Regions from separate parts of the Homo sapiens genome. Here region 2 is linked to region 1. Evidence: fine-mapped expression QTL. A gene starts in region 1. The other region holds a variant in brackets. All regions are shown on one strand. Distances are between the middles of the regions. Region 1 holds the start of GZF1 (GDNF inducible zinc finger protein 1). Region 2 holds the start of CSTL1 (cystatin like 1).

The links. PIP is the estimated chance that this variant, and not a neighbour inherited with it, causes the effect.
Region 2: its variant is fine-mapped to the expression of GZF1 in whole blood (TOPMed, PIP above 0.99).

Annotation. Positions count from the first base shown.
Region 1 is chr20:23,356,880-23,366,151 of GRCh38, reverse strand. It overlaps GZF1 (GDNF inducible zinc finger protein 1), which reads right to left and starts at 3,970. Exons shown (of 6, transcript NM_022482.5): 1 at 3,915-3,970; 2 at 405-1,789. The coding sequence starts at 1,768. LINC01431 (long intergenic non-protein coding RNA 1431) reads left to right here and starts at 8,025. Exons shown (of 3, transcript NR_109884.1): 1 at 8,025-8,197; 2 at 9,015-9,101; 3 at 9,183-9,272. RefSeq lists enhancers at 2,371-2,430, 4,245-4,504, 7,930-8,319, 8,510-8,599 and silencers at 3,685-4,174, 4,595-4,684, 7,690-7,879.
Region 2 is chr20:23,435,942-23,445,213 of GRCh38, reverse strand. It overlaps CSTL1 (cystatin like 1), which reads right to left and starts at 5,529. Exons shown (of 4, transcript NM_138283.1): 1 at 5,408-5,529; 2 at 4,728-5,070; 3 at 1,170-1,280; 4 at 284-443. The coding sequence starts at 4,946. The coding sequence ends at 336. RefSeq lists enhancers at 2,209-2,788, 3,191-3,290. The variant C/G (reference allele first, on the strand shown) is at 5,700.

The DNA of each region.
Region 1 (9,272 bases):
GTCCTAAAGCCTGAAATGGCATCTCACTGAGGTCTCTACTGAGACTGTGGGACCCGGATGGTCACAGAACCCCAAGATCTAAACGAAGAGTCAGGAAAGGAGAAATAAAGGTAACGAGGCCCAACTCTTCCTCCAGCACGGTGGGGCGAGCCCGCGGCCGCTGTCGCGGTCCCACCAGAGGGACGTCCCGGCCAGCAGGGGCGCCCCAGGGGTCTCAGAACAAGGGAGCAGAGCCATCACTCGCAGCCCCTGTACCTTGACAGAGAACTAAACGCTGTCTCGAAATAAGCCCCCAGGTTTGGAGCGGAGAAATTAAGCAGTGAGACATCAAATCCCAGGACGACCTCAGTGCTTGACACACCCTTCCAGTGCGCAGGGACCCCTCCGGACGGCTCCCCGCGTACCTCATGTGCGTCTTGAGCGCGGACGGCTGCGAGAACCTGGCGCCGCACTCGGTGCAGCCGTAGGGCCGGTCTCCCGTGTGTGTGCGCTCGTGCAGCCGCAGCGCTGTCTTGGAACTCAGGCCCTTGCCGCACTGGCCGCAGCGGTGCCGCTCGCCGCCGCCCTCATGCACCTGCAGCACGTGCCGCTTCACGTCCTTCTTGCGCTTGAACTTCTTCCCGCACAGCTCGCATGGGAAATGGCGCTCGCTGCTGTGCACGTGGCGCTGGTGGCTCTTCAGGTTGCAGCGGTTGGCGAAGGTCTGGCCGCAGGTGTCGCAGCGGTACACCACCTCGGTGGCCACGCCGTGGCGGTGCTTGCTGTGCTTCAGGAAGCTCTTCTCATACAGAAACGCCTTCTCGCAAATGCTGCACTTAAAGTTGCTCTTCTTCTTCTCCCCTTCTTCGTCCTCCTCCTCCTCCTCCTCTTCCTCCTCCGGCCCTGCTTTCTTTGACAATTCCTCCAACTCAGCACCTGCCTGGCAACCCTCATTTTTGGAAACCTGCTCCATCTCCGTGCCCACCCTGTCCGGGCTTTGGTCCTGGGGACACCTGTAGTCCCCCACATCACCCTCAGCAGTTTTCTGCTGCTCTCGGAGTCTTCTCGTATATTTCTTTTTAGGGATCTCCACAAAGACCTTCCTCCCAGCCAGCCTTCCACTAGCTCTCCTGATTTTAGGGTAGGGAGGTTTAACTACCTCTTTCTTCTTGTCTAGTTTGTCCTTGGACTTCTTCGGTGGCAAATCTGAAGACATGCCATTGCTGGCTCTCTCTCCTGGGTAGTCCAAGGAATCCGTGAGACCACTGGGGTGAGGGCCATCGGTGGCCACACTTGCCCTGGGGGCAGGAGCAGCACTAACTTGGGAGCCACTGCTCACCTCCACCTCCTGAGACTCTGAGAAATTTTGCAACTCCAAAAGTACTGACTCTAACATCTGTTTCTTTAATTGAAAACAAGTTTCTGATAAATCCAAACATTTCAGCTTTTCAGCCACTTCCAGCATTCGCTGCACCCGATCTTCTTCCACCTGTACCTTTGCAGTGTAGACAAACTCAAGAAATGAAGCAAAGTCAGCAACCTGCACTTCATTTAAGTAGACATTAGTCCTAGTACCATCCACACTCTTCTCATTAAGGAACACTTCCTTAAAAAACTTGCTGGTGGCAGCCAGCACTGCCTTGTGGGCCATGAAGTCTTTGCGGACACCCTGATACTCCACGCTGACTGTCACGTCACACAGGTGACCCAGGAGGCGAAGCTCATGCATCTCATGCAGTAGGTTAAATGGGGAGGATTTGGATTCCAGCAGAACTGCACCGCTTTCCATCTTTCTTCCTTCCAAAAACAGCTTTGAAAAAGAAACAAGAATTATGCATGAGCAACCACTGATGCAAAAGGACTAAAATTTATGAGGATTCCTTCAGTACTTGAGAGGATATAGACTCATTAACAACCTAGCTTTACTCAGGTAAAGATTCGAATGACATTTTACTTCTTAGCAGTTTTCTAAAGTGAGGTTCCTCATGCATTTTCCTAAGGTAATAAATTGGCATGAAAAATAGTGTATTCTAAGGTTTCCTCCAGTGATAAACAAATGATGGAAGTTGTGATTAGTGAAATACATTAACACAGTAATTTGCTCACCAAGGTCACTGTCTAATTTGCTTACATAGTCCCCAAAACTGTAAAAGAATTCATGGCAACAATAATGTCTAGTTCTCTGATCAGGAAACCAGATAATTAAAACACATAGCCACCACCATCTGGGAGCAAATCCAAAACCTCAGGGAATCATTTCTGCCTTTGAAAAGAACCAACTAAATAACTACTTTCCATGAGGAAAACTTCTTGGAAAAGTAGTTCACAATTCATCGCCCATTCCCAACATCCTAAACTCCTCAGAATTTGAATTATTGTTACTCTACTGAAATAATGTTAAGTTCCACAGCTTTTACAAGCTGTGCTACTTTGAGCAAGCAACTTCTCTGAACCCATTTCCTCCTCTGAAGAAGGCTGACCGGCTGTTACCAGGGTTCCATGAGCCTGAAACTTGTTGGCTAGTTTATTGGTTTCCCACACATAGGCCAAGGTGCTACAGTGATCCCCATTTCATAGATGAGGACCTATCAAGGTAACAGTCAATGGCTGGTTGGGACATGAGCCAGGGCCTGGTGCCCGGATTCAACTCAGACTACTCAACACACTCTTCCCCTCAGCCTTGCCAAAGGCAAAGGGCTATCTTTAGCCCCTAAATCTTTCCACTGCAGCGGGCATGCAAATTTCACCAACCCCACCTAAGGCCTCCAGATACCGTCACCCCATCGTCATTTCTGCTGCTTTGCCACAAACTCCCTGAATGTGTTTTCTCCCTGCCCTTCAGCTCCTGAATCTACCTTCCTCTTTGATTCCTGTTTCCATCCATCCAAAGCACATGCCTTCCTTCTAGCCTCCTTCGGCCAGACCACAGATGTCACCTCGGATTCAACGTGTCTAGAAAAAAAGTTGTCATCATCTTCCCTGATAAACTAGTCCCACCCCTCTCCCCTTCTCCAGTCTCATCAATGAGACCGCTCCCCACAACTAGCAGTCCCTCAAACATGGAAAAGACTGCCCTCTGGGAGTTCCGCTGTAAACAGGTACCTATGAGGCTTGATCAATGTCGCCTGAAGGAGACGCCCCAGTAAAACTGTGAGAACACTGACAAAGCCTAAGGAAGGGATCTATAAGAGTGGGGCTCTTATAGAGCCACTGGGGTTTCAGTGGTCCCAGCCCCAGCCTGGGGAAACAAGACTGCAGAGGGCTCTCTCAGCCTGATGCCCTGACTTCCCCAGACCTCTGCCAACAGGGCCCTCGAGGAGACCTGATTTCTCAATCAACAAAGTGGGTTCTGAGCGCGATTTCCTATGTTGCTTGGCTACTGGAGTGCAGGCACTGGAGGTGGCGACAGGGCAGTCTGCGGCCGGTGACAGCTGCGTATCCGCCGAATCTCATTGGCATTCCGGCCGCCTCCCAGTGCGCCCGGCATCTGCACCAACGTCGGCGGCCCCTGAATCCCCGAGGCTCACGGGGCCAGAGCCCTTCCAGGAGACGCTGCTACCCGCAGCCCAGTCCACGGCCACAAGGGCCGGGGTTTCCAGTGGGGCTTAAATCCGCCGCTGTCCTCGCCGCCCTCACGGCACCTCCCACCCTTCCCGCGCCACTTGGCCGCCCCAGCGCCCGGACGCCGCTCGGCCACTCCAAAGACGACCCAGAGAACAAACTACTGCAGCCACAGAGAAGCCCCTCCTCGGCCCGACGCGCCGCCTCCCGACGCGGGCATCCGGGGCCGCGTGGATCAGGCCCTCGGGCCGCCCCCTGCCCCCGCTCCCGCATCCCCGAGACGCGCAGGTCCACAGAGCAGCCGGGGCGCGCGGACAAAGAGGCGGCGGCGGGCGGCGAGGGGCCGGAGCCAGGCCTACGGGCCGCGCACTCACCTCCCAGCCGGCGCCCCCGCTGCAGCCGCTGTCCGCTGGACCAGGCCGGTAGGAACGGCCGGCCCGGCTGGGCGTGGCGTAGCACCCTGCGCGGGCACCGCCGATTGGTCGCTGCAGGCCCCTCCCCTCCCGCGGCCGGCCCCGCCCCTGGCGGGGCTGAGGAAGGGGCTGAGCCACACGTCGGGCGGCGGAGCGGTTCGGGCAGTTACCTGATCTGGCCGCGCGACTGACTGGCGACGCCGGATTGCGTCACCCGCCGCATTGCGTCACCCGCCGCGAGCCAAGGCCTGCGCCTGCGCAGGAGACAGCGACGTCTGCGCTGCGGCACGCCACAGGGGGGCGGGGCCAGTCGCGAAAAGTCACGTGAGCGTCAGATTCGCGTGGTCACTTTCGCGTCCATTCCGGGCTTCTGGCCGCAAGGCGCCAGCGCTTCCGGGCCCCAGCAGCCTGCGGTCAGGGCCTGCAGCTGGCTTCCCACTAAGAGCTGCTCACGTCCCCGAGGCCGAGCGCACCCTTAGGGCACGGTGGCCACGCGAGGGACCTCGCGGAAAGCCGGGCTTGGAGCTGGTACTCACCTTGGCTACTAGGGGCGCAGATGCCTCCACGGGCGCTGGAGAACTGGCGCCAGGCGGGGCTCGGCGCGGCGCTCTCCTCTGGGGCGCTTCTTCCGCGGTGCCCCCGCCCTGCTGGGGGGCTCGGCGCGCCAGGAGCCGGGACCGCACCCTGCCGTCTTTACTGCAGGGCTTTATTTCCAGGAGTTCCCATTCGGGCGAAAGCTTTGTTCACTACAGAACTTCCCCAGAGACCCATCCACTCTTCGGGGAAAGCACAATTGATTCCCTAAGATTCGCTGACTCCTCGAAATCTTGCTGTTTCCACCAATTCTTGCTCAATACTAACTAAAGCCCGCTTTGAAACACCTTCCTTGAGTCAGACTTCCAGTTCTCAATAAACTGACCTTGCCTTTTGCTCCCAGCCATTGGTAAAGCTTTGCCAGGTCATGCTGTCCCTTACTGTGGCCAGCAGTTAACTCAGCCTTGTCTTACCGACACGTTGAGTTTGTAATGTTTGGGGACTGTCAGGACAAATACAAATTTAAAATAAGGTTTACTACTTCCTGTTGAAAATATGAGATTTCCCTCCCTTTTTCTTCGAACATTTACTTTTAGAAAATTGGTAATTAGTGTAAGTACTTTTTCCTCTCTTTGAAATATATAAATCCTTTTGAAGACTAGTTAGGCCTTTTTGTGCGCTTTATAACCTAGATATGTCTTTTTCTAGGACCTAGGAGCCATCTCTTTAAGTATCAAGGGAGTTAATGCCCCTGTCTCCCAGTTTTAATGGGGGAGTAGGAGCCTAACTTCAGTGGGCCCTTTGCTCCAACTTACAAAATTATCTCATATCATAAAGATACAAGTTTCTTTTTCCTCTAGATAAAGCCAATTGGCTAACACAGAGGATCATCCCAAATATCAGGTTAGATGAACTGTGTGTGATGAAAAATGCTGCCAAGTTCCCTTGAGAGCTAGTTATTGTTTATCTTGAAAATGTGTGTAATAGATTGCTTGGCTGCACAAAAGAGTGAGATTTCGTTCTGTCTTTGCAGTCTCTTAATGGATTGCCTGTGATGGGTATCACATTCTAGTTTAATGCTTATTCAATTACAAAGTGTTTTCTTTCTCCACTACCTTTCTGAAGAGGGTTGGGAGATTGTACTTTTAATTATATTTCCTGAACAGGAGCCAGCTTCCCACACATAGTAGGTGCTCAATAAATATTTGAAGAATGAATGAGTGACAGAAATCTTTCTTAGGCCGACTCTCTATATTTGCATTCCATGATTTGAAGAAATTGGAATGAACGCAGTTTTCACCCATGGCTCCAGCAGGCCCAGAATCGTGTTTTATGATTTTGTTTTGCATTACAAAAAGGTGGTCAGGCACGGTGGCTCACGCCTGTAATCCCAGCACTTTGGGAGGCCGAGGCGGGCCGATCACTTGAGGTCAGGAGTTGAAGACCAGCCTGGCCAACATGGTGAAACCCCGTCTCTGCTAAAATACAAAAATTAGGCCAGGTGCGGTGGCTCACACCTGTAATTCTAGCACTTTGGGAGGCTGAAGTGGGCGGATCACCTGAGGTCAGGAGTTCAAGACCAGCCTGGACAACATGGTGAAACCCTTTCCCTGCTAATAATACAAAAATTAGCTGGGCGAGGTGGTACATGCCTTTAATCCCAGCTATTCAGGAGACTGAGGCAGGAGAATCGCTTGAACATGGGAGGCAGAGGTTGCAGTGAGCGGAGATTGCACCACTGCATTCCAGCCTGGGCAACAGAGGAAAACTCTGTCTCAAAAAAACAAAACCAAATTAGCCGGGAGTGGTGACAGGCACTTGTAATCCCAGATGCTCAGGAGGCTGAGGCAGGAGAATCACTTGAACCCAGGAGATGGAGGTTGCAGTGAGCTTCGATCATGCCATTGCACTCCAGCCTGGGCAATAGAATGAGACTCCGTCTCCGATTATGTTAGCTAGCATAACATAATGCTAGCTTATCCATTCAATACTGAAAGGATTGCTTTAGTTGAGTGTCTTAATAGCTTTAAAAATAGAGGTCATAAGACTCACAGACTCTTTGTGGCAATACTAAATGATAAAGAATGAAGGGCCATGCCTGGCAAGGGTTGTCATGCACCTCTACACTTCAAGAAGAAACTATGCCTTAACTGCCACAAGGTTTTTATTCTCTGGCAGCCAAACAAGCACTGGCCTCTAGATAAGCAATATTCAAACAATGTGCTTTTCATCCACCTCCACATGCTGACTGACACGCCCCCTGCCCCAGCCCCACCACTTCCACAAATAATTACTGCTTTGATTGGACCAGAGACTGACTGCAGTAACTTTTTCCTGATGGGAAACAACCGAACAGGGGCTGATTCTGGCGGTTTACAGAGGCTGCACACAAGTGCATCGGTGTCCTGAAAAGATCTTTCAACTTATAGGGTCTAAATGTAATACATGAATACCTGTAAATGCTAAGAGTCCACCCCAAAGTAAACATAGGTCACCTGTAACATGCACGTTTGTCCAGTAAGCATGGGTCAGGACCCGTTTCATGAATATTCATAGCTCTTCCTGTGGCCTGTTCATATGTGTACTTGGCTAAGTCCTTCAGCTTAAATTCCTGTCTTAGGCCCCCTTCCCTCCAGCTGCCTGCCTTTTGAGCTTCTGCCAGAAGCTATGCTTCCCAGCCTGTCAGAAGGGCCACCTTGCAGGTTATCACCGTTTAAAGAAATAAAGCTCTCCTTTCTATGTTTGTGATCTTTTTTTTAAATAATACAAATAGACAATTCACTTGACAGTGTGAATGGCATACTTCACTGACAATGGAATACTATAAAAACAATAATAAACCACTGATAAACATCAACCTGACAAAGTTAAATATAGTGTTTCATGCTGTAGAACTCTGCACGAGAAAAGTACACGGGAGTGAACAATTGTTACGTAAGGGCGTTCACTGCAGTGCACTTACATTAGTGAAACTTTGGAAACAATCTCACCTATAAGGAGATGGCCGAAGAATTTGATATATCCAAGCACTGGATTATTATGCCGGTCATTAAAACAATGTTTAAAAATATGTGTAATAGCTTGGGGAAATGCTCACCATGTTATAATGAGTAAAGACGGTACACTATTTTACATAGGGTCTGATGTGATTTGAAAACAAATCTATAGAAATAGACTGGAAAGAAATGTATCAAATTCTAAACTGCACAAGGAAGAACACTGACGCACGCGCAACGCCGGCGCCCTGCCCACTAGGCGCCCTCGCTGCCCCTCACCTGCACAGCCGGCGCACGCCCACAGGCTCGTGAGGGAGCGGCCGGTGGGTCAGGCTGGGCGGCACTCCTCGCCCATTGGCTGTCCCGGAGTCCGGCCCCGCCTCTCCCCGCCTTCTGGAGCCGCTGGTATAGCTCCTTCCAGGGCTCCTTGGAGACGGAGGGCGGGGCTAGGGCGCCGGAGTCACGTGGTCGCGCCACCGCGCGATTACTAGCTGTCAAAAGAGTCCTCAGAAGTGTCCTGAGCGGTCGCAGGGTAATGACGTCGGCCGTATCGGGGATGCTGGAACCTGCGGTTGAGTGAGAAACCGGCGCCACCGCCTGCGTCTTGGTCTCGGGCTGGTGGCCAGCGGGGTCTGGGCGTGGTTTTACCCAGCTCCTTTGCGAAGCTGCTGTCCTTTCCTCAACGTTACCACCCGGCTGGGCAGCCTACCCTCGGTCAGTACGTCCTGGCAAGAGCGCTTCGGGCGTGGCGTTCGTGTCGCGGGGGCCTCGGCTCAGAAGCGAGGGAAGAGCAGCCCTCAGAGGAGCGGCGACCGCGCTTACCGGGAGCCCGGGTTGGGAGAGGGCTCCCCAGGAGGGGTGTGAGCTCCGAACGAGAAAGAACGCCACCGCCTCGTGGGGTCTCTTCCTAATGTGCAGATTCCAAATCTCTACAATGCTGCAAAAGAGGTTACAGTCCACATCAAATTAAGCATGCCCTAAAGGGCAGCTGGGGTTCAGTTCAAGAGTTGAGTTTTAACACACACCTTTACCTGCCTTAAAATTGGGCAAGGTATCACAACGTTAAACCATTTCTCACAAGGCTCGTTGGTGATGTTTAAGATTTTTTGTTTGTTTGTTTGTTTTTTGTTACGGAGTCTCGCTCTGTCGCCCAGACTGGAATGCAGTGGCGCGATCTTGGCTGACTACAACCTCCGCCTCCTGGGTTCAAGCGATTGTCCTGCCTCAGCTTCCTGAGTAGCTGGGATTACAGGCGCCTGCCACCACGCCCAGCTAATTTTTCTATTTTTAGTAGAAACGGGGTTTCGCCTTGTTGGCCAGGCTGGTCTTAAGTTTTGCATCCTGGCTCCCTCCTCTTACCTAGTCCCAGCCTCTTGTCTACAGGACAAAGCAACTTTCTGCAGTTTTCTGTTTGCTCTTTAGAGAGACGGGGCCCTAATTTGGCAAAGTGGTAGGGGAGACAGGGCTGGTGTTTAAGGTCGACCAAAGCAACATCTAAATCTCTGCTCTTCCCCCAAATTGTCCAAATTAGCAGCAACAGGTGTGCACCTTCCAAGCTTGCAACAGACCACATTCAGAAGCTTGATTTCTTGTTGTTCTGGGAATATCTGGATCAGAGGTAACATGGTTCACTAGGACTCCTCAGCTTCACCCAGTGTCCATTTCACCTCCCCCGGCCTTCCAATGTCTCTTCTTGCAGATTTCTCCAAGCCACTCTCCCCGTCATCTCCTCCACCCCCAGGACCCAACTCCTGCCCCTCCCACCCTAGCCCCTGTTCTCCCTGCCCAC
Region 2 (9,272 bases), 79 kb before region 1:
GAAAGAAAAGATTGCACCAACCCCTGAAGACCACTGAATGTGTGTGCGAGTGAGTGTGCATGTGCTTGACATGTAGGAGTGAGTGGGTGGGCGGGTGGATGAGTGTGTGAGGCTGTTAAAGTGAATGTGCATGTATGTGAGTGGTGAGAGTGTGAGGGTGTCGTGAGTATGAGCATTGTGTGTGTGGGTTGTGAAGGTAAGTATGTGCAAGTGTGTGTACGTGTACACTCTGTGTGTGCATGTGTGTGTGTGCATGTGTAATAAGACCCCAATGAGGGAGACATGATCCTTTACAGTTTAATAACAGCCAGTGCACAACTCAATCATATGAGCCCTCATCTGAGGTTTCTGCCCACATGCTCGGCCTCCAGACAGGAATTGTTCCAGAGCTGGAAATAGTTTATCCAGGGCATGGTGTATATCAAAGACTCGCAAATTAAACTCTGTAGAAGAAGAAAGAAAACAGACTTTGGGGGAAGTATTTTTCAAAGGCAAGCAACAGGCACCTGTTCCCCAGGTCTCTCCCTGTGGCTGCTCATGAACCCCATGGGCAGAGAGGGGAGCTGCCCACAGTCAAGGGTAGAAACAGAAAGGAGTGCCAGTCTGGAACAGGAATGTCACCCTGTCTTCCCCCTACCCAGCCACTTGGGACCCACAGCAGGTGAACCTGGAGTCTATGGCCTGGCCGGACCCTGTCATGTGGGCCAGGCAGGCCAGCAAGGAGCAATAGCATCGTTACCTCCTCCTGCACCTCCCCAGGCATGGGGGAGCCCCTTGTATCTGCCAGCTTTCAAGGGGTGCCACTCATGGACCAGGAAAAATAGAAGGGAACAAGGAGGAAATTGGACAACCTTAGAGACCTGGAGAGGGAGAAAGAAGACAGAAGAAGGACCCCAAGGAAAGGGAACCACTGCTTTCACGCAGAGGGTCTGGGGAGCAGGCCAGGTTGGAGAAGGGTCCAGGCAACCAGAGGCCTGGGTGCAGGGCTGTACCAGCCCAAATATAAAGCCTCCCTCCTTCACCCAGGTGCCTCAGGAGGTGCCAGACAGCCCCAGGGCTGGGCCCCAGCTGGCCCCAATCCACACAAGTGGCAAAACTGCCAACTTCTAGCTGTTGCTTTTTAAAATATTCACTTCACAAGTCCCTTTGGGATGACTTCCACTACACACCTTTCTCAGCTTCTTGCTTTGCAGGGGGCAGGAAGAATTGCTCGTGTCATTCCTCTTGCATTTGGTCCAGCCAATCTTCACAGTGACTATATACTCCACTCCCGTCGTCAGCTGCCGAGAATCAGTTGTGCTGTTAGTGTGGACTCCAAGCATCCAGTGGCTGACCCTCTCCTGGAGAAGCTAGGACTGAGAGTAAAGCTCCCAGGGCCACAGTTCTTGTTCGCGGAGCTTACCCACCAAAAGCATGGCTCCCTTCTCCTTACTTCTGGCTGGAGGGAGGGCAATGGCAGCCAAAGCCCCTGGTCATAGGTTGGTTTTGCTGCAGCAGCCACAGAAAGCTTCTCACCTGCCTCTGTTCCATCCTCAGGACAGAAGAGGCAACATCAAGCTGGGTTGCCTGGCCACCACAGGCCACTCCCAGGCTGGCAGATGTGGCCTTCAAAATGCAACAGAGCCAGCATCTTGTCCCCACCCCCCCAGTCCCTTCTGCCATTTCCTCTGTCTCTACTATCCTTCCTGACCAACCTAGTGGAAGGCAGCTTAGCAATACAGTTAAAAACAGTTTTGGAATCGAATTGATTTGGGGCATGCATTTTCCATTTAGTGACTGTGACCTTGAGCAAGTTACTTAGCATCCTCAGCTTTTTCACTTACAAACTACAAACCACAATTGTGCCTGCTTCTGGAGTTGTTATGTGGGCTAAATGGAAGCTTGCATTTCCCTGAATGCATAAAATAAATTTTAAATATTTTCATAATTATAAGTTATTACATCTTTTAGCAAAGTGTCTGCAGTGTTACTTTGAAGCAGATTCAGTGTTAGGAGAGTGACAGAACACAAAATCTGGCTTTACCCCCTGCAGACTCTGTAAATTTTACTGAATCTCAGTTTCCTCATCTAGGAAATGAGGAGAATAATGCCAGTTTCCTCCTAGCGTGTACAGAAATGAAGGAAGGAGGCATGGTGGGTACACGAGCCATGGAGAACGCATGCCAGGGATTTCCCCATGGCTCTTTCACTTGTGATCAAGTGTGAGGCCATGAAGCCTGCAGGGGTTGGAGCCTGGAAAAGCCCTTGTGGGCAGGGAGGCCCTACGCCCAGAAGGGAGACTAACAGAGAGCTTGGGGGTTACGGTTCCCTGTCGGGTTCTGAGCTGGATTCCTGAGTAGATATGTGGATTAGTGGATCTTCACCGGTGCAGGAGAAGCTCTGGGAAGCTCCCTGTTGCCTTGCCCTGTCACTGGTCAAGCCCAGTGAGAGGGCTTGGTCATCTCTGGGGTGGTGACTGAGGCAGAGAGTGCCCACACTGCTCCTGGGAGGAAGACACCCTTAGCAAACACTGGGACAGGGCAGCAGGGAGCCTAGACCTGAGGGCAGTACCAGCCTCCCCGCACCCAAACATGTGGGGGCCATCCATGCATGGGCATTTGCAGGGCTGCCCCAGGCACGGTCACACTGACTTTCAGCATGCTCAGAATGTAAGAAAAAACTAAACCACCCGTCATCACTGTAACTGACATTCCAGTGTGCAAAGTGTTATTCGTTATTAGACTTATTTGTTCGATAATGACAGGAGTAGTCATAATAACAGCAAAGATTTTTTATAAGTGCTACCAGATGTTGGCACTGTGCTAAGTGCTTCCCTCCTATTCTGAGGCACTTTGCAGGTGAAGAAACTGAGGTCTGGAGAGTCTGGATGTCACTTGACCAGGAGCCTCAGTTGGGAGGAGCTGGGCGTGAAGCCCCCAGAGGCACCTGGCAGCCCTCCACGCCTGCTCTTGTCCCCTCTGTGAGGTGTAAGGACAGACACAATGGTCATATGGGTGTGGGGGTGCCCAGAGGCCCATGCCAAGATCACCCAGCTACCAGGAGGCACGCCTGCTCTGTCTGCTTATCAATGTGAATGACATCAAATGCTCATCATTATTCCTTAACAGCTAACTTAATGGTGATGGATTGATTTCACAAGGCAAGCCTCCTTGGGGTCTTAACCAATTGTGGAAGAACCAAGAACCAAATGGGCAACATCGCCATCTTGTGGTAGAAGTGCCTCACTGAGCCAGCCTGTGGGACAGTCTGCATTGGGATGAGGATTTGACCTATGCTGACTGGTCCTCCCCACGCTGCCCTCCCGCCTTGCCGGTTCTCTCTGTTCCAGCTGCCTTACTCTCTGGCGAGAGAGCTTTCCCATAGCCAGTTGTGTTTTCCCAAATCTAGCTAATTGAACTAGGACGTAGCATTGTTGCTGCCCCAACTTCTACAGTCAGCCCTCTGTACTTACGAGCTCCATATCTGTGGATGCAAACAACCGTGCATCAAAATATTCAGGAAAAAAAAATGTATGGTTGCCTGTATACTGAACATTTTTTCTTGTAATTATTCCCTAAACAGTACAGTATAATAATTATCTACATAGCATTTACACTGTACCACTTATTATAATTAATCTAGAAATGATTTACCATATGTGGGAAGATGTGCATAGGTTATGTGGAAACACTATTCCATTTTACATAAAAGACTTCAGAATCCATGGATGTGGGCATCCTGAGGGGTCCTGGAACCAATTCCTCATGGACACCAAGGGGACTGTATAGTTTATTATCTGACCTTGAGGAAATGTTGTACCAATAAAAGGGGTTCCCTAACAACTTTTCTTTCTTCTATTATCCTTCAATTGATATATTTCAGAGAAATTTTATATGTAAAACAGAAGGTGAGGTGATCTGGCTGAACCCTATCTCTCACATCCTCTCCACTTCCAGAATAAACCCTCTGTATAATTTGAAGTTTGTATAACACAGAACACCCAGTTTTGAATTTTACAACCCTACACATTGAAAAAATATTGGGGGCTACAGGCCTACAGAGAATATTTGTATTTTGCCAAATGAGAACTTTAAAGGGAGCAAAATTATCCTTGCTGTCACTCCGGCAGGGTCAAATATCAGAATGAAAGGCATTTCTTCCCAAGGAAAAAGAGCTGGCCGGGCGTGGTATCTCACGCCTGTAACTCCGGCACTTTGGGAGGCCGAGGTGGGCAGATCACCTGAGGTCAGGAGTTCGAGACCAGCTTGGCTAACATGGTGAAAACCGGTTTCTACTAAAAATACAAAAAATTTAGCCAGGTGTGGTGGTACGTACCTGTAATCTCAGCTACTTGGGAGGCTGAGGCAGGAGAATCACTTGAACCTGGGAGGAGGAGGTTGCAGTGAGCCAAGATCATGCCATTGCACTCCAGCGTGGGCAACAAGAGCGAAACTCCATCTCAAAAAAAAAAAAAAAAAGAGTTTAATCCTCAGTGAACACTTTTGCCTCTAAGTGTATTGGAGTTAGAGTTCATGCCAGTCCTTAGGAAAGCATTTTGGAAGCATGGCTAAGGACATTCTGGGATCTGAACAACTCTACAATGTACCTGCTACAAGTGAAGATGCTTCCCCCTTGGGACCTCACGGAGGACCACCACTTGGTTCTCTTGGGAGCTACCCCAGAATCCTCACATGTCTGAACTGGCAAGAACAGGGCCTGCTGATGTCTTGGGAGAGCAAGGTACAAACCTGCATCTGACTTCGAATTAGCCTCTGGACTCGATATAAGTAGGTGTCGTTGCTGGCATTGTTGTAGGATTGAATGAAGAAGTTGAGTGTTGAATTCATGTTCTTCTTGCTCATGAGCTTCTGCTGGAAGCCCTCCCACCTTTGGAAGTGACCCAGCTTGGCTGACAGGACCAGGGCAATCAGCAGCAGCAGGGGGTTTCTCCAGCATCCGATCCCCATGTCTACAGCCTCAGAAACTTTCTTCCCAACTGCACCTTCCAGGGTGTGGTGGTGCCAGGCTGCAGTTCACTCATTCTCCCATCATAACCCTCACCAACATAGGCTTTCCTGGGGGATGGCCTGCCTGCATTTAAACAGAGATTCAGACCTGAACCTTGTCACTCAGTTTCCAGCCAGTTCATTTTCTACCCATTTACACCACCCATTCAGTTCTTTGGTGATCCAGGCAAGCAAAATTTTTAAACACCTGCTAAGGCGTGCAAGCCCCTCTCCCTGCCTTCACATGTCTCAGGGAAGAAAAGCCCCAGAACAGCCCCTACAGTGCTCTGCAATAAGAGCTGGGGTTGTAGATAGAGAAGCATCACTTACAGGAAGGGAGGCGGCCTTACGGAGAAGGTAATATCTGAACTGAGATATAAGGAAGCAGTCATATGGAGCAAGGAGTGGTACATTATTCTTACCTTCCTTGGGTTCCAACTGTCTTACAAAGCCACCACCTGTTCCCTGTGCTTCCTTTACAGACACGTTCTCCTTGCTCACCTGCCGCCCGCCCACCACAGATTTCTGCTTGCAGGATCCCCCTATACCTGCAGGCCCTGCACTGGCTTTTGCTATCTTGTTGTGACCCTAGTGGAGCTTTGTGAGGTAATTGCAGCCTCCCTATGAGGGAGGAATAAACTGTGAGCCCCATTTAGAAATTATCCGCAGACCCCTGAAGATTAGGTGTCACTTACCCCCAAAAGCCCATGAATG[C/G]CCTATTTTAAAAACATTTGCTGGCTGGGCGCGGTGGCTCACGCCTGTAATCCCAGCACTTTGGGAGGCTGAGGTGGGTGAATCACCAGAGATCAGGAGTTCGAGACCAGCCTGGCCAACATGGTGAAACCCCATCTCTACTAAAAATACAAAATTAGCTGGGTGTGGTGGTGTGTACCTGTAGTCCCAGTTACTTGGGAGGCTGAGGCAGGAGAATCACTTGAACCCAGGAGGTGGAGGCTGAAGTGAGCCGGGAGGGTGCCGCTGCACTCCAGCCTAGGTGACAGAGCGAGACTGTGTCTCAGAAAAAAAACAAAAAACAAACAAAAAAAAACACCTTAAATGGAATCCTACCAGAAAAAAACATTAGTGGAATAGTTGATGAAATGTGAATAAAATCTGCAGATTAGTTAATAGTATTGTGTGAATGTTGATATTCTAGTTTTCACCGTTGTACTGTGATTGTATAATATGTTAACATTTGGGGAAGTGGAATGAAGGGTATACGAGAATGCTTTATGCTATTTTTGCAGCCTTTGTGTAAGTCTGAAATTATTCCAAAATAAAGGTTAAAATGTCCAAAACTAAATAAAGCGTTGTTCTGTGAGGAGTAGCGTGCTGAGGGAGGGGAAGCAGGAGACTTAGGATCCAACTGTCCTGGCTCAAGTCCTTCGCTGGGGACTCTGGGAGAGTTACCTCATCTCCCTAAGCTGGGTTTCTTCACCTGTAATATGAGAATGGGGAGAAAGACTCCACTTGAATTGTGGTAGAGACTAACTGGATGTAGGCAAAGAACCTGCTCCCAAGTCAGGTGTCAGGTGCATAAGAATGTCTTCTTCGTGATTCTTCTGTGACTCTGAACCCACACTTCACCCATGGCCTGTCATGTCCCGGAAGCCAGGCCACCTTCCATCATGACAATGTTGCTAGCACCAGTCACAACATCCTCCCTTGGCCCCAGAGCCTGTCTTGAGAGGACTTGTCCAGCCGGTGGAGGTGATACATTTGAAATTCCCTGAGCCTGAGCTGCCGAGGGCCACTTGCTGTAGAATAGATAATGAAGGATTCCGAGTAATCCGGGAAGCCACACAGACCTGTGCCGTCTCAGCATGCCCCAGACACCTGGGATACCCCCATCAGGCTGAGGCCCATAGAGAGGAAAAATAACATTGGGTGGGCCATATTAGAAACCCCATGGATGTGGGGCTCAAAGCATAAACAATAAATCTGCTTAAGAAATATGGGAGTTGGTTGTGTCCATAAAGAGGAAAATGAGTCACTGGCAATTTTAATTGAAGAAAAGGAAAACATAGACCCTGACTATGCCACAGAAAGAGATGTGAGGCGCCTAACAGGTCACACTGGCGTTCCTTAGCTTGTGTCAGCAAAATGCTGATTTCTGACTCTGTGGACATGGAATCAGGAAAAAAATATGATTCTGGTAAGGTACATGTATAAAGGGAGACAGGGAGCTTGGTTACAGCATGGAATAGGGGCAGAGCATAGTGGCTGACACCTGGGAGGCTGAGGCTAGGAGGATTGCTTCAGCCCAGGAGTTCCAGACCAGCCTGGGCAACATGGTGAAACCCCGTTTCCACAGAAAATACAAAAATTAGCCAGACATGGTGGCCCACATCTGTAGTCCCAGCTACTCTGGAGGCTGAGGTGGGAGGATCACCTGAGCCCAAGAGAGGTCGAGGCTGCAGTGAGCTGAGATCACACCAAGCACTCCAGCCTGGGCGACAGAACAAAGGGAAATAGAGGGCTTAGTTGTTGTCTGGTTACTGCCATGAAACAATGGAAAAATAGGGGCCTGAGTATTTCCGTGGAACAAGAGTAAATTAGGAGTGCTGGCTATAACAAATAGGAGCCCTGTTCTTGCCAATAAAAGAAGGGAAAAATATGAGCTCTGGTTAGACCATGGAATAACAGGAAATATGAGGTCTGCTCATGTCTGTGGAATAAGGAGCATAGGAGAGAAGGATTGCAGAAGGGCATGAGAAAACTTCAGGTGATAGATATGTCTGTTGTATGAATTGTAGTGATAATTCCACAGGTGCATACGTATGACAAATTTCATCAAATTGTACACTTTAAATATGTGCAATTTGGCCAGGCGCCGTGGCTCACACCTGTAATCCCAACACTTTGGGGAGGCCAAGGTGGGCAGATCACATGAGGCCAGGAGTTCAAGACCTGCCTGGCCAACATGGTGAAACCCCATCTCTACTAAAAAACACAAAAATTAGCCGGGGAGCACATGCCTGTAGTCTCAGCAACTCTGGAGGCTGAGATGAAAGGATCGCTTGAGCCCTGGAGGTCTAGAATGCAGTGAGCTGTGATTGTGCCACTGCACTCCAGCCTGCCCAGCAGAGTAAGACCCCGTCTGAAAAAAAAAAAAAAAAAGAAAGAAAGAAAAAGTATGTTTCCCAGGAGTCCAGCAAACTGGGCCTCCTGTCTCATAAGCTGAACCTGGTAACAGGCCACTGCTGGACCAGGCATGATGGCAAGTGTGGGATTCCTGTTGGATCAACCCGTGGCTGGGTGCTGTGTGGGCGAGATGGTGTGTGTCCCACAGAGGCCCCCTATGAGCTGCACAACTTCCTGGTTCTGTCTGTTGACGACCAAGCTCAGGATTTCTTTATCAGTCCAGCTCCTAGGAGAAGCAGGAAATAAACAAGAACATGATGATGTGTTTTATCCCAGCAGGCTCTGCTTATGTGGGCTGAGGAACCTGCAGACAGGGAGCTTCCTGGCTGTAGTTCTTCATCACTCCTTCACCAGTAGATATGGCATTGGTGCTGGGAAAGGGTCACACTGTGACACTCTCTTCATCAGCCGACATCTGCTATCTGAAATTTTCTGATCATTCTGGGGAAACAAATAATCCTCTGTAAACAACACGGCTGATCTCGGTTGGTTTCTTCTCTCCACTCTATTTTTTTTTTTTTTTTTTTTTTTTGCATGTAGCACTATTTGACAAGCTCTTCTTTGTCCCCTAAATAATCCTGTTCTAGGCTGGCTGCTGACCTGGAGATAACCCAGGCAGAAAGCAAATCTATTTGCGACCCACCTGCTGCTGGGCACCCTCCAAACATGGCCCAGGAAGGAATGGTCAGCAGTCTGTGCCTGCTTGAGGAATCTCCCAACTGTGGCTGCAGGGCAGGGGTAGGGGAGCACAGTCCATGCTGCCAGCAGCAGCTCCCACTGCAGCCCTGAGCCCTCGCCCCCAGGGCAGCAGCAGAAGAACATGGCTGATCTTGGCTGGAAATGCCTTCTGATTCTGGGGAGCAGGCCAGCAGCAGGCGCACAGAAAGTCAGCAAACAAGGCGGTGCTACAGATGGCTCCAAGCTGGCATCGCTCCAAAGGTCCCAGGGTACATTTTCTCTTTCCAGACACAGAAACATGAGAAATCACAAGGCTTAAAAAGTGAGAGCGTGTCACAAGAGGCCAAGGATGCCCAGAGTGGAGGGGCTTGTGGGGAGGTCATCGTCCTCATCCAGCCTTTGGTCTCCTTTCTGCAGACGTTTTCCACAACACAATATCTGTTTACCAGCTCTTAAATAGTCATC